Linked DNA regions of Homo sapiens: region 2 is linked to region 1. Evidence: fine-mapped expression QTL. Tissue or cell type: aorta. Region 1 holds a variant in brackets; the other region holds the start of a gene. All regions are shown on one strand. Distances are between the middles of the regions.

The links. PIP is the estimated chance that this variant, and not a neighbour inherited with it, causes the effect.
Region 2: it holds the start of GRIA2, and the variant in region 1 is fine-mapped to the expression of GRIA2 in aorta (GTEx, PIP 0.97).

The regions. Positions count from the first base shown.
Region 1 is chr4:157,799,355-157,807,464 of GRCh38, reverse strand. It overlaps LOC105377509 (a long non-coding RNA gene), which reads left to right. Exons shown (of 6, transcript XR_007058347.1): 5 at 2,123-2,214; 6 at 3,764-4,035. Among named protein-coding and RNA genes, the nearest start is that of LINC02433, 230 kb to the right of the region's middle. RefSeq lists a silencer at 2,074-2,368. The variant G/A (reference allele first, on the strand shown) is at 3,769.
Region 2 is chr4:157,217,437-157,225,546 of GRCh38, reverse strand. It overlaps GRIA2 (glutamate ionotropic receptor AMPA type subunit 2), which reads right to left and starts at 4,819. Exons shown (of 16, transcript NM_001083619.3): 1 at 4,417-4,819; 2 at 3,740-3,880. The coding sequence starts at 4,504.

The sequences.
Region 1 (8,110 bases):
AATGTGGGAAATAGCTGAGAAAGCCTAGATTCATATATTGAAAAAGCCCAAGTATATCGAATCACGAAGTTCTGCAACATGGAAACTATAAATAGGGGGTGATAGGAACAAGGCAGTCCAGGATCATTTGTAGATGTTTATTCTAGAATGTATGAGCTAGAATAATCACTGCCTCACAATAGCATAAATTAGTTAGGCATTACTTTTTGATGGCTTCTTCATATTTTGAACACAAGGATTCTTATAGTAGAGCCCCAAACAAAAACACTGGTTAACTCAGGTTAAAACAAATCATTAAAATTGCCCATTATGTTGCATAGAGAACTACCAGCAAATATCTGAATACATTTGGAAGCAGATTAAATTATTATATGAGTGTCACTATACCAGCACAATATAGAGATCTCCTATTCTATTAAAAAGAAACAGTTTATAATATATTTTAATGCCACCTACTAATACTTACTTTGAGAAAAATAAATATTATTTTTTCATTATTTACCAAACTGATGCAAAAATGAATTTTTATAAACTTTTATTCTATCTTTTTCTTGCTAACATTCTGACTGAAATAACAAGATGAGTAAGAAATTCTTCATGGGGAAATTAGCCTCTTTAGATTTCCATTATGATATTTCCAAAGGTAATTTTATTTTTCATTTGGGCTATTGATATATTCTTAAAACTTCCAGATAAATTTGGAAATTTAGCAGTATTCATTGGGCAACAATATTTTGTTGATGTTTGTTTTTCAAATTATCTAAACCAAAAAGCTTATTTAAGTTCTACTATCCCAGGTTTCTATGTAGAACTAGAAATTGTTAGTCCAAATTTTATTTAAAAATGATTTATAAAGGATGATTCGACTCTATCTTTGAAAACAAATAATTTCCAGTTTGAATAATGATATGTTAATTAAATTAAAATTGATTAAGTCAGGCGGCATTACATATTTGCTAGTGCTTCAATTTTAGTCAGGAGAGGAATGGATATGCTTTAATATTCAAATGCCACTGTCATGTTTAAATTCATTGCTGTGCTGTGGAAAGAGAAACAACAGAAGCAGCTGTGTGCTCCCACCGCATTGAGCAGAGAATTCAATAACTCTCAGAGTAGGCAGGATTAGCTACTCACTGTCAAACACAGTTGCCCAATTCTGTGCAGCAGATTTTTTTAATATTCCATTTTGGAATACTAAAAGGTTGAAATATGTAAAATATGCAAACATTTCCATTTGCAAGTCACAATGAGAACACAGATGCACAGGTTCTATTTAGCATTATAGCTTTACTGGTTGAACTCAACTAATTTACTAGAGGTATTATCTTTATTAATAACTGAATAATAATTTATTAACAAAAACAAGTTTCCGAACATAGTACTTATTTTTAATCAGTGAGAAAACTTTGCTAAGCTTTTCACCTTTACTAATTGGATACTCTGACTTTTCTTGAAGATTATACCAACAGACTCCATTAGCCTTCTAGACAATGAGTAAAAACAGACTATGCAGTTAAGCCTTCAGGAGTGCTAGCCCAGGAGCATGCTGAAAAATACTACATTAGAAATAACCTGACAGTGATAACTTCAGGGCAATTGGGGAACTATTTTCAGCTTAGATCCAAACTGAAAATTAGCTTTCTCGCCAAAAAGCTACATTTTAGAAAACTCCCACCTGCATATAATATGGGTGAGAAAACACAGAGGCAGCAGAGAGAAGGAGCCATGTGAACAACAACAAAAAAGGTGGTTATATTGGGCTACTGACAATGTCCAGCACAGATACCATTTGTCCGATACAAATATCATTTGAGAAGCACGTACAGTATAATTTTATTCCTAGTACTTATCTTCCTTTCCTTTACCCATTATTTAAAAGGAACACAAAACAATGTTAAAATTACTATAAGTACCTAATATCAGATCTTTCCAGTAAAACTATGTGAAATATATATTGTGAGGCCTTCATGAGTACAGCTTGGTGGGTCCGATTACCTTTGTACTTTTTAGAACTTTTTGCCTAGGCTTAGCCTGAGTGAGGGTAAGGGGATGAAAGAGTGAATGTGCAATTTTCATTCTTCTGTCAGGGTTTCTCTGTAGTCACTATCCTCTTCCTGCATAGGTATTAAGGCTGAATTTGTCTACACATCAAACATGTACCTAGGAGGAATATTTGCTCTGTGCCATCAGCAGTGTAGAAACTAGAATAACCAGGTGAGTGTCTGCAATGTCTGTTCACTTCACAGAAACTCAGAACAAGCAGGCCTGTGTTCTTCTTGCAGCCTCAAGAGGGAGCAGAGGAAAGAGGGCTATGAGTGTTCTCTTAGACACAACAGCAAGTAACAAATAAATGCAAAGGGAAATTTTGCTTAATTAGCTTCAAATGTCTCAAACATTATAGATAACCATGTGATAAATGTATAACAGTAAAAAGATAATATTGGGAAGTTTAGCAGAGTACAGCATCAGCTATTATTAATCTGATGAACTTTTCATTTGTAACCTTTGAAAATACTACTACCATAAAGTGACACATGGGGACAAACCCCTGCAGAAGACATCGTTAGGATTTTAAAGTGTACAAAGATAGACAACAGTAATAATTTGGAGCCCTAAACTTTTTTGTTAATAAGAATTTTAAATAAATTATAGTGGGATGGACACATATTCTGTTTTAAAATAGAATGCATACTCCTAAAAGTTTTTTTGTAAATAAAAAGTATATTTTAACACTACCTAGTTATATTAAGAAATGCTATAAAAATCACTTTGGGAGGGTAATTATACTTCATTAATTTAGTTTCATTTCCACTTCTAAGCCTTATTTTATTACTTGTTTAAGCCTTATTTTATTATTTGTTTATATAGGGCTATCATTTGTATTTAAGAAAAGGTATTCCAATATACTATATAGAGCAGCTGAAGAAGAATAAAGCTGGCTCAGAATCCCTGGATGAGTTTCTGCTGTGGTCGTGTTTCAGTAATTGGGACTAGACTTGCCATCTGCCCATAAATATCTAGAAAACTAAGCATAATAGATAACACATCTGTGTCCAAAAGTGGGACAACAGTCAGTGTGAACTATGACCTGTGAGATAAGGGAAACAAATGAGGAGAGGCCTACAATTGCCCTTGCTCTCTGCCTGGAGGCACTCTCTAGAACACAGTGTGGGATGGGAATACAAAACAGAACATAAGGGTCTCACTAATGAAAAACAGAGCAGAGCAGGGGGAGGCAGATCTGGCTACAGTTTAGAGGATTTAATGTCAGAGAGAAGGGAGCTCTGCAGAGCTCCAGAAATCCATATAAGGATCTCCTTGAGGCTGTTGCTAAATATTAAGCAAAATTTATGTGGGGATTAACTCCATGAGGTCAGGCAAAAAAATAATGTAGGAGTTGTGTACCAAACAATTCCCAGAGCTCACTGGGTAATGTTGAAGTCTGACCACTCAGACTGCCAAGTCTTCATCTGAACATCAAGGGTATCCTGTAGATACCTAATGACAGTTACTCCTTAGTAACTGTTGTTAAGTGTTGTAAGCAGTTTCTGAGATGCTTCCAATGATTCAGACCTCTTAATATTCATGAACTTTTGTAATATTTTCCCATCAAGTGCTAGTGGGACATAGAACTTGTTTGTAGAGAATAGAATACAGCAAATGTGATGAGATGTTACTTTTGAGATTATATTAGAAAACAAAACAATGCTGGTTTACATTTTACTTGCCTTCTCTCTTGCTGACTTGTTCTGATGGAATCTAGCTGCC[G/A]TATTGTGAGCTGCATTATGAAGAGAACCATGTGGCAAGACACTGAGGGAGATCTCCAGCCAACAACAACTCATAAGCAACTAAATCTTGTGATGAACCACTGGAGTCATCTGGAAAGAGGATCCTCTCACCTTCAATCTTTGAAATGGCTAGAGCTCTGATGACAGTTGGATTACAGCCTTAGGAGAAACAGAGAGCCGGGGAAATTTGTGCCCAGGTTCCTTTCCCACAGACATTGTCAGATAATAAATATCTCTGCGTTTTTAAGCTTCTATGTTCTGGGATAATTTGTTATGCTGCAATAAATAACAACCTGGAAGTGAGGTGCTGCCATAGTAAATATCTAAATATGGATCATTAACTCATGTCTAAACTAGCCTTAGAATAATAGCTACTCTAGACTTGTTAGCAGAACTTAAAACAAGCCTTAAGAGAACCAAGCTGATCCAGAAATAACATACATTAGCGGATTAAAATCCAACTTTCCTTAAAGAGTGATAGAAAAAGTAAAATACACAATATCTAACATTCAATCAAGAATTACTATTGAGAACATGGAAAAACATGACCCATAAACGGGAGAAAATTTAGTGAATAGAAACAGATCCCAAGATGATAACAATAATAGAATTAATAAACAGGACTTTGTAAACAACTATGATAAATATGCTTGACTGTTTAAAGAAAAACATGAAAATAATAATGATGAGAGGAATTAAAGATATATAAAAGGACCAAATAGAACATCTAGATTTTTATTTAACTTAGGCACTATATGAAGTTAAAGATACACTAGGCAAGACACTGTAGAAGATAAGATAGATAAACTTGAAGACATGGATCTCAAATTTTTCTAAACTGACTTTCTTATGGGGACAGAAAAGACCAAGAAAATATGAACAGTGTCTCCTTAACTTTTTATACTGCCTCAGTGTCTCAATTACTTGTAATGATATGAAACAGTCCAATGTATGTATCACTGGAGTCCTGGAAAGAAAATGAGGGACCAGAAAAAGGTTAAAGAAATTCTAGCCTAAATTATTCCAAAATTGGTAAATACAACATATACTCACTTTGTAGAAGCTCAATGAATTTCAGTTGAGCTAAACAGCAAACAGACAAAAAAACAACCCCACCAATTCTCAAAAGCAAAAACAGAAAAAGCTATAAGCACATCATAATCAAATTATTAAATACTAGCAATGAATGAAAATCTCTTACACAAGTCAGAATATAAAATGCAAATTATTTAGAGAAGGAAAAAGATAACCTATGACAGAAAATAATTAAATAACATCTTCAGAAAACCATGGAACACTGCTAAGAGAAATCACACATGACACAAAAGAAAACACATACCATGCTTATGGATGGGAAGAATCAATATTGTGAAAATAACCATACTGGCCAAAGCAATCTGCAGATTCAATGCAATTCCCATCAAAATACTACCATCATTCTTCACAAAACTAGAAAAAACAATCTTAAAATTCATATGGGACCAGAAAAAGAGTACATATAGCCAAAGAAATACTAACCAAAAAGAACAAACCTTGAAGCATCACATTACTGAACTTTAAATTATATTACCAGGCTATAGGTACCCAAACAGCATGGTACTAGTATAAAAGTAGGCACATAGACCAATGGAACAGAGTAGAGAACCCAGAAATAAAGCCAAATACTTACAGCCAACTGATCTTCAACAAAGCATACAAAAATATAAGTGGGAAAGGACACACTATTCAACAAATGGTGCAGGGATAGTTGGCAAGCCACATGTGGGAGAATGAAACTCTATCCTCATCTCTCATCTTATGAAAAAATAAACTCAAGATGCATCAAAGACTTAAATCTGAGACCTGAAACCATAAACATCCTAGAAGATAACATTGGAAAAACTCTTCTGGACATTGGCTTAGGGAAAGACTTCATGACTAAGACCCCAAAAGCAAATGCAAGAAAAACAAAAATAAGTAGTATCTAATTAAACTAAAAAGCTTCTGCACAGCAGATAGTCAGCAGAGTAAACAGACAACCACAGAGTGGGAGAAAATATTCACAAGCTGTGCATCTGACATCTGACAAAGGACTAGTATCTAGCATCTACAAGGGACTCAAACAAATCAGCAAGAAAAAACAAAAACAATCCTATCAAAAAGTGGGCAAAGGGCACGAATAGACGTTTCTCAAAAGAAAATATACAAACAGCCAACAAACATATGAAAAAATGCTCAACCTCACTAATTATCAGGGAAATGCAAATTAAACCATAATGAGATACCACCTTACTCCTGCAAGAATGGCCATAACTAAAGAGTCAATAAACAATAGATATTGGTATGGATGTGGTAAATAGGGAACATTTTCACACTGCTGGTAGGAATGTAAATTAGTACAATCACTATGGAAAGCAGTATGGAGATTCCTCAAGGGACTAAAAGTAAATCTACCATTTCATCCAGCAATTCCATTACTGGGTATCAACACAAAGGAAAAGAAGTCATTATATGTAAAAGACACATGCACATGCATGTTTATAGCAACACAATTTGCAATTGCAAAGGTACGGAACTAACCTAAGTGCCCATTGACCAATGGGTGGATAAAAAAATGTGGTATATTTATACCATAGAATACTATTCGGCCATAAAAAGGAACAAAATAATGTATTTGGCAGAAACTTGGATGGAACTGGAAGCCATTATTCTAAGTGAAGTAACTCAGGAATGGAAATCCAAATACTGTATGTTCTCCTTACAATCGGTAGCTACCTTATGAGGATGCAAAAACATACAGAGCAATATAATGGACGTTGGGGACTCAGTGGGAGAATTGGGGAGAGTGAGGGATAAAAGACGACATATTGGATACAGCATACACTGCGTGTTTGATGGGTGCACTAAAATCACAGAATTTACCCTAAAGAACTCATCCATGTAACCAAAAACTACCTGTAGCCCTAAAACTAAAGAATTTTTTTAAAAAATAACATCTTCAAACTGTTAAAAGAAAAAAAATATCGATCTAGAGTTCCATACTCTGCAAAAATGTACTTCAAAAATAAAGACCAAAAGAAGATTTTTAAAACAAACAAATGCAGAAGTTGTCACTAGCAGACTTTTACTTCAGACAACAATAAATAGAACTCTTCAGGTGTAAGGACAATGATTCCAGATGGAAACTTGGATTTACTGAAAGTAATAGTGTTGTGATTGGTGAATATGTTACTAAAAATAACATTGAGTCATTTTTTTATTTTTAATCTTTATAAAAAATGACTCTTTAAAACAAAAATAATAGAGTGTATTGTGAAGTTTGTAACATGTATAACATGTATAAAAACAAAAGCACAAATAGGAGATGTAATTATATGTAACTTTTAATATATTACATGTGAAGTTGTATAACATTATTTGAAGTCAATGTGACAAGTTAAAGATGGACAAATCCTAAAACCCTAGAACAACAGCTAAAAATGAAACAAAGTGATTGTTATAGTGAATCAGAGAAAATAAAATGGAATATAAAAAGCTATCAAGATGTCAAAAAGAGAGGGAAAGAGGAAAAATAGCAGAGGTATAAATACACAACAAATAACAAAGTAATAGCTTTAATCTCAATGATATCTGTAAATTAGATGAAGGAAAATGGAATAAAGGCTGCAATTAAAAGGAAGAGATTTCCATGCTGGATAAAATTGCAAGACCCAATTATATGCTGGCCACAAGATACATGTTTCAAATATCAAGGCACATATAGGTTAGTTAAAAAATATAAAATTCATATATATTTTCAGCATGTATCTATGTATCCCTAATTGTGTATGCCCCTAATAATAGAACTTCAAAATGCATGAAGCAAAAGGTGACTGTACTGAAAACACCATTAAAAATACACAGTTATTTGTGGAGATTCAACAATTCTCTCTCAGTAATTGGCAGAACAAGTCAATGTTAAAAATCAATAAAAGTAAAGAAGGTTTGATCGATGTAAGTTAATTGATATTTGTGGAATTTTCTATTCAGCAACAGAAGAATATACATTCTTCTCAATTGCAGACGGTCCACCCACCAAGATGGACCCTGTACTGTTCTGTAAAACATGTTTTAAGAAAGTTAAAAGACTGAAACTGTACAAATTATGTTCTGCACATAATAGAAATTATATTCTATATGTGATAAAATTTAATTTTAAATTAACAGCAGAAAGGTATCTAGAAAATTCCCAAATACTCTAACATTAATCAGTATACTTCTAAATAATCACAAGTCAAGGGAGATTCACAAAGATAGTATGAAGTATTTTGAATTGAATAAAAGAAAAACATACAATGTCAAAT
Region 2 (8,110 bases), 580 kb after region 1:
TTGGATTCCTAGGACCCATCCCTGGTTTCAACTGTTCTACACATCAGATACTAATCTCAGATTTTTTTCTGCTTTTATGCTTTGTATTTTTAATAATGAAGGCTTACGTTTGAACAACCTTCAGGAAAAAAAATCTTAGTTCTCTTTTCAGCTAAGAAGACAGGGAGGGAGGAAAGGAAAAAATGAGTGAGGGGAGAGAGGAAAAGAAAAAGGGAATGATGGAGAAAAAATGAAAGAAACTGAAAATCTGTCTTACTGCCTCAGGTACCCATGGAAACAAATGGAACAAAATAGGTACTTTCATTATCCCACTGTGATTGTGAAAGGGAAGGATGTGGGAGCTCAGTAAGATGCACACAATCATTTTACCCAGTTCAGAATAGAATGACTTCATTTTCTTTGTATAACCTTAACCCATTCAGTGGATCTCCCTGGATCCTCATATCAACGTCCACTTCAACATTTCCAAATAATTTCCTCCATCTCAGGAATAAAATTAAATTAGTAAACTAATAAATTTTCCCTTTTGAAGTTGTATTACTAAGGTATAAAAATCCACTTTTTAATACGTAAATTTAGCTCTGTGGGATTTTTATGATTGGAAGAGCAAGCTATTTCAAGAGCATTGCAAGATGATACCTATCATCTAATAATGTCATTAGATAGCAAAATTCCTGAGATTTCTAGAGGAAATGGGAAAAAAGATGTTTAGATCTTAGCTGTCAATGTATTTAATGCTGTTGCTTCCACTTTATAAAGGAAAGAATCACAGACTTCCCTGAATAAAAAGGCAAGAAAACAAAGGATAGGCATTGGAGAAAAATCTTAAGCAGGATTTAAACGATCAAGACCCATGCTGACAAATTTAACACTAGAGATTTTCATCCATTTCTTGACTTTGTGATTGTAGTTTACATAAGCATCTTTCCCTTTCCCTCTCTCTCATTCTGTCTCAAAAGAGTTAAACTAATTTTACATCTTCTATTGTCCATAGCACAAAAACAAACAAACAAAAAAGGATACAAATTCTCTATTTCATTTTGCAATCTCTAAATTTTGAAATGTCTCAGAGAATAAAAAAACGGAGTCACAAACATGTTAAGCGATTTGCCCAGTCAATGAGTTAATGTCAGCCCCAGAAATTTCTATCCAATGAGCCTCTCTTCTGTCACAGTACCCCCCTAGTTCTTTTTAGCAAACAGTAAGATTACTTATAACATGGGAGTTGCAAATGTCATGCTTTTGAATTATCATGTTGTCATCTTTAAAATGTGTTCAGTTCCTGAAAATAATTTGTTTTACTATCCTACTATAATAATCCATGCAGGGGTAATTTTAGTCTCTGGAAATGTGAACATATTTATTTTAGCTTCACTTCCTGAGGAGGGGAAAAAACTGTGCAAATGAAGACTTGATTATTCCAGCTTCTCAGAACTATGGACAAATTAAATTGTGTGGTAATTTTTTAAAAGAAGTCCACATGTTGATTACATGAATGTGTTCACCCTGCAAATATATGAATTTACATATGTGTTTAATATATACACATATTCTGGCTATATATTTTATTTCAGAAAAATTTCTATTTAAAAATTCAAAAATATTGAGAATGAGTATCTAAACCTAATAACCTAATCACAGTCTTTTATCTTTATAAAGCCCCAATACAGTAGTTTAGCATTTGTTGAAATCAAGGAATATTCATTTTGTCAATGGACATATGTTATTTTTGCAGAAAGTTCTTCTCATTATTTTCACCAATGAGTGAACTTGGCAATCATTGACTGTTTTCAAAAAGTACAGCTGTCAATACTTTCACTTCACATTCAAAACCTATGTCCTTCCTATACCCACAGCCGTTCCTTAGGAGTCATTACTTTTCAAAGCATTTTCACATAAGTATACAATTACACACAGTTAGATACTCAGAACAGTTGCATGACAAACTTGTAATTCAGGAAAAATTGGAACTTACTGATATCAAATGAATAGTCTAAATCTGTTAGGTAAATAGGTCAAATATAGAAGTCTTCAAATTTTAATTAAGTTGATTTCTTTGTATGTCATGTACTAAAATTTTCTGAGATATTCTATTACGGACGTTTTTCAAAGCTGCAAATCCACTTTAATTCTCCTCTTCTCTCTTTCGTTCTGTACCCCCACACCCGCCCTTCTTTCTTTTCTTACTTGGCACCAACATTTGAAGAAAATATATAGCAGTGAAACCTTCTTAAATAGATCCATTATAAACAATTAAATCCTAAATTACCACACAATGCCCCTATTCTATCAGTCTAAGAAAATTGTTTCTTCATTCGTCCGGGTGACAGTAGTTGCAAGAGTTGATGATGGGCCCAATATGATAATCAAGCTAAATCACGGAATATATGACTAAAGCTTAAAATGGGGAGGAGGGATGGCAACCAGTTGTTTGTGTGACGTGGGAAAACTGCAGTTGGGCTTTTCCTGTGGTAATTTTCCCCAAGCTCTGTAGCCAAAGTGGGAAGTGAGCCATCCGCAGATCTCCCCCAAATTGTTATCTATGAAATAACGACTGCGAATATTAGGGCAGGAAAGAATCACCGCAGGGCAGTCGGCAGGAAATGATGGCAGCTGCTGGGAAGAGGGCAGGAAGGCACAGTGGCCGCGACTGCCTGCCCACGCCTGCGCGGGGGAGCGAGCGCGGGGACCGGAGCCCTCTGGCCTCCACACCAATCCTTTTAGATCCCTAATTGTTTGGTTTCTAGTACTTTATCTGAACCCATCACAGAGCTTCCCAGCGAGTCCCGGAGCACTGCGCGGAGTGAGAGGGTTAATATGGAGCATTGCAAAGACTAAAATGGCTGATCAGCGACTTCTCCAGATTTTCAAACTCGGCCAGATCCCACGGCTTCCCAGTCCTTTTCCCCGGCTGCCTCTGCTGGAGCCCAGCTACCTGAGAACAAAGCGCGCCGGGCTGGCAAGCTGACCGCGGCGCCCCTGGCGGCCTCGCCCCCTCCAACTTAAGCGGAAGCGCAACTGAGCAGGAGAAATTGACAGCGCTCCCCCTTTCCACCGCCTCCCCGCCCCACCCCCACGCCACCCGGCCGGCCTGAGCCTGCGTCAGCCCCGCTCCTCGCCCCTCGGGTGGGCGTTATGTAACAGCCCCGATCCCAACTCCGGAACCATTTCAACAACTTGTCCCAAAGAGGAGAACATGGAGCTCGCGAGGGCCGCAGGGTGAGCCCAGCCGGTGCTGCGGATCTAAACTGGGGGCAGCGGGCGAGAGCGGCAGCTGCTGGGGCAGGAGGCCACTGGGCTCCGGCAGTCCCTCGTGGGATTTGTCCAACAGCCCGACTGCGCGCCCTGGGGAACAACGTGTTCTCTGTGGGCAGGGTGCCAACAGGCGCTCGATGGGGAGCGAGGTGGGAGGGCTTCTCCTGAAGCACTCAAGATGAGCGAAAACCCCTTGAACCCAAGAAAGCCGCCCTCCCTGGCTCCAACCCTCACCCCGGCTCCCTAATGCGCACACTCTTGACGTCCTTTCCCTCTCTCTTCAGCCCTCTCCAGCCAGCGGGGGTCCCTGAGATTACAGCCACCTTCTCTCTACACGGTCACACGCACGCGTGTGTGCAGTCACTCACACCCACACACTGACACACAGAAACGCACACACACCACCCCAGAAACGCACACACACACTCACACTCGCTGGCCTTCCGCGTGCAGCACCCGAAAGGCATGAATATTCATTACTTACAAGCATTAGTGACTGCGAAGCTGTTTGCCACCTCCAAATTGTCGATGTGGGGTGTCAGTCTGAACTCCGAAGTGGAAAACTGAACCATCCCTACTCGAAATGCACTGTATTCTTGATCGGCGCCCCTAGGAAATAGCCCCCCTGCAAAGAACAAACAGCAAGCAAGAGAACAGTGTCAGTGCCCCGGGAGGGAAAGGAGGGGCGCGCGCTAGCGCCCAAAAATCCAAGAGTCTCTTATTCACGCGAATAGGCCGAATAAACACACCTACGGACTCGGACAGCGGGGGTGGAATATCCAAAAGCTAGCCAAGGGGTCAAGACCCAGATGAGAGTCTGAAGGCGAGGTAGGCGGCCAGAAACCTTCACCTTTCCATGTAATCACAAGCTTTGCATTCAGACCCCAAGAAAATCTGAGCAAACTGGAAAATGTCGCTAAGGCAGAATTAATAAAATTTGGGGATCCGAAATGAGAGGACCTTTTCTTCTATTGTATCAAAGGCATAGTCTTTTCCTTTTGCTTCATCCTAAGAAAAACATGTATATTCTAGGTAGTTTAAATCTGGAATGCAGTCAAGGTATGACATAAGTCTACATGACATGAATTAATTTGTACACTGTGAACAAAGATTACCACCAAATTATGCACAATTCAAAAGCATAGCACAAAGGGTACCTACCTATCTGTATGCTGTTAGAAGAGACACCAAAAATCAGTCCCCATAAAACAGGAGAAAGGAGGACAGAAATATGCATAATCTTTTGCATTTCCAAGAAAAGTAGAGCATCCACAATATACCCCTTTTTTTTTCCTTTTCCTCCTCTTCCTTCTTTGGCTGTTTTCCTCTGCAAATTAGATCCTCTGCATTTTGAGACAGCAATTTAGCACCAAGCTGCTAAAACCTGAAGTGGAGGCAGAAGAATCCCTATTTCCCAGGTCCTGCTGGTGGCTGCTGATGCCCTGCGCCCTGTCCCCGCTCCAGAAGTCCGGAGGACTGGCTGAATGCAGTTTTCAGCGGAGCTGCCGCTGTGGTCCCAGTGTCTCGGAATATTCAGCACCCTCCCATGCACTCACACACACTCACCCTCTCTCGCGCTCTCTTCTCCCTCTCTCCTCTCTCACTCACGCGCGCGCGCACACACACACACACACACACATACACACACGCACACACACAGGCAAGTCACAGAGAGGGGCAGGCAGTCCCGGGCGCGCGTGCGCGACTCGCGGCAGGAGGCGGGAGCGCGCGCCCCCTCCCCCGCACGGCGCCCGGCACCCCGCACCACCGTGGACGCGTCGCGTGCGCGGCGCTGAGAAAGCACAGCTCGGGGCCCGTAGCCGCTGTCCCTCCGCGAGACCTCGGGTCTCCGGGGCTGTCGCGCCCACCGCGCGCCTCGGCCTTTCAGCACCGAGGACAGCGCCTCGCTCCCCGCCCGGAGCTACCTTCGTGCGGCTGTTGCAGCTGCTGCGGAGATGCTCCAACCTGGACCAAATGCAGCAAAGCTGATCTCCGGCTGCTGTGTAGAAGCCGAATTGCTAATTGTTGGCGGCGAAGCGTCCTCTCACCAGGCCCTGCTGTCTTACGTTACAAATAATTTTGATTTTTATCTTCCATCTCCTGTGAAAACCCATTTAGCAATACAGAAGCCCTGTCATCCTCCTCACCTGACCCAGCCGAAAGCAAACAAGCAAGCAAAGCACCGTGGAGGAAATATTCCAAAATTGTGCACTTGGGCTTCATGGGATGTAGCCAGGATCCAGGGAGAACCCCAAGTTATATCTTTAAATGCTTAAGCCGCACAAGAGATCAAGATGGAATCTTTTAAATATTTTGCATGAAAATCCCATCTTTAGAGTATATTCCATTGGGCTGTGATGCTGACTCGCCTAGTTACAGAGCGCACGGGTCTTTCTCGCAGCTTTCACTGCAATCCCTCCCTTGTAGAGTCATGTAGACTTGGTTTCCTAGAAGCCCTTGCTTTATGCAGATTGAAAGCAAGAGACTCTGGTTTAAGGAAAGGCTATTAGAGGAAAGTGATTAGAAGATGAAGCTAGTGTAGGAATGCCACAGAGATGCAGATTCTTTCCCAGAGACTTACTTAGAAATCTGTTTCCCCATCGCGTTTTGGCCGGGGGTTTCGAAAAATCACTGCCTAAAGAAAGTAAGCCACCACGCTCTACTGAACACGCGGGCCACAGGGAAAGAAAGATGAGGTTAGATATTAAAAGTTTGAAGGGAGAGAATTGATGGCGAGATGGATGACTGGACTTCCCGTGTGAAATTTATGTTCTTCATGGTGCTTTTTCCAAGCTCATTCCTGGAAACCTGCTCTGACAATTCCCTCTGCGGACTCAGAAAAGCCCCACCAAGTTGCATGTCTTTACTGGTTTAAACAAATAAAGAAAGATTGAGAACAAGGAACTGTTTCCAGGAAGAGGGAGATTGGAGCTTACAGTACTAAAAAGAGAACTGCTAGTATTCCAAAATGCCATGAGTCTATCAGGCTGCCTTCTTGTGCTTGCAGCTTCATTGCTGACTGGATTATCTTATGCTTGCTTCTTAATCACATTGGCCTCAATTTCCCCATTTTAAAAATGATGATGAGCAAAGTGGCTTCTATGGCTCTTGGATCCTATATTGCTGTCATTTCAAATTATAACCTTTCCCTCTTTTTGATGTAGTCCTAAACCATGAAGTGAGAATAGCTGTAATCTATTATTAAGCTTATAAACTATAGACTAAAATATCTCTTAATTTTATGCCTTAGAATTTTATTAGTATGTTATAAGTACTCCACACTGTATATAAAGCAGGTCTTCTAAATAAAAATGTATTTAACCTTTAAAAAATTGAATAATAAAAATAATATATAAAATTAATTAAAATTACAATAAATCGATAAAAAATAAAAAATGAGATATAACTTACATATATTCAAAATTGCAACATAAAGAATAAATAAATCATACATATTTAATCATTATTTGTGATGTAAGGTATACAAAATGATTGGAAATTATTACCTATTTAAAATTTTTAATGTAAAAGCACTAAGAACAGAGCAAAATTTAAAATACCTCTGTAGTTATTTTTTTCTCGATTCACTTGTTTCCACAGGAAAACTTTAATTTCATAGAAAGTAACTTAGAATTAAAGAGAGCGAGGACAGAGAGAGAGGAAGCTTCAATATGAAAAAAATTTGATGTTTAAAATGTGAGTTCAGGTGAATTGAATTTTAAAAAATAAGAATGTTTTCAAACTATTTTCATCTTAACCTATTTCAAAGTCAAGGGCAGATATGAACTCAAAATTGACTGAGTTACATTCTATAAAAAACAAATGCTGTAAAAATAAGAATTTGCTGAATCATAGAGTATAGTAACTAATATGTAAGAGCTCAAGAAAAATATTACTGTCTAGTGGCCAATTACAATTTATATATAAGGTGGAAATAAAAATTTTAGCAAGCATTACTTGTAATTCAACTGCTATTCTATGTATCTATGTTCACAAGGTAGTTATGTATAGACCTTTCACATATTTGGAAACTTATTTCCTATATCAGCATAATTTTATTAATATTATCACTCATGAGACTTTTTCAAATTTCTTATAATGTTTTAATAGCATGTATGTTTCAAGCACAGAATCCTGTCAATATAAGGGTAATAAATTTAAATTGACTACAGTAAATGGTTCTTTATACAAATACATGGAAAAATACTGGAATTTATTTTGTGAATGTACACGGCTCTATTTTTTCATGTAGCAACTTCCTATTTCAAGAATATGTATTTCAAATTGATCACCAATCAATTTTGAAAACTTCAAAACTACTAGATCTACAGTTGACTAGAATAGTGTGCTACAAGAAACAGAGTTTGCTATTTTCTGCCCTCTGCTGTTCAATTTTGGCAATTATGTAAAACTTCATTGCTTCCGCTGCAAGAATTGTAAGTTACAATAAAAAATAAAAGAAATAAAAAATGTGATCCATCGTATCATTTGTTAGTTTAGTTAGGTGGTTGGTTAACAGTTTTTAAATCACTGGCAGAGCAAACTTTTAGCTGACTTTATTATCAAAATTAAGTTATAAATGTCAGTGCTGCAGTTCCTACTGAAGTAGTTTGACCAAAGTGGAGTTCACTCCCTGCCTTCCTGGGACTGTAAAAATGTAGGACATCTAAAAGACTAATATGCAATGCAGAATTTGTAAAAAATGAGTGTCCTCCTACTTTCAGCAGAAGATGGCAAAGGATAGCAGTTCTCGCAGAAGAAACCCATGTTTCAAACGTAAGATTCTATTGGCTGATACAGAGCAAAAGAAACAAAGAAGGAAACATGAGGACTGTAATTACTCAGGGCTATAAAT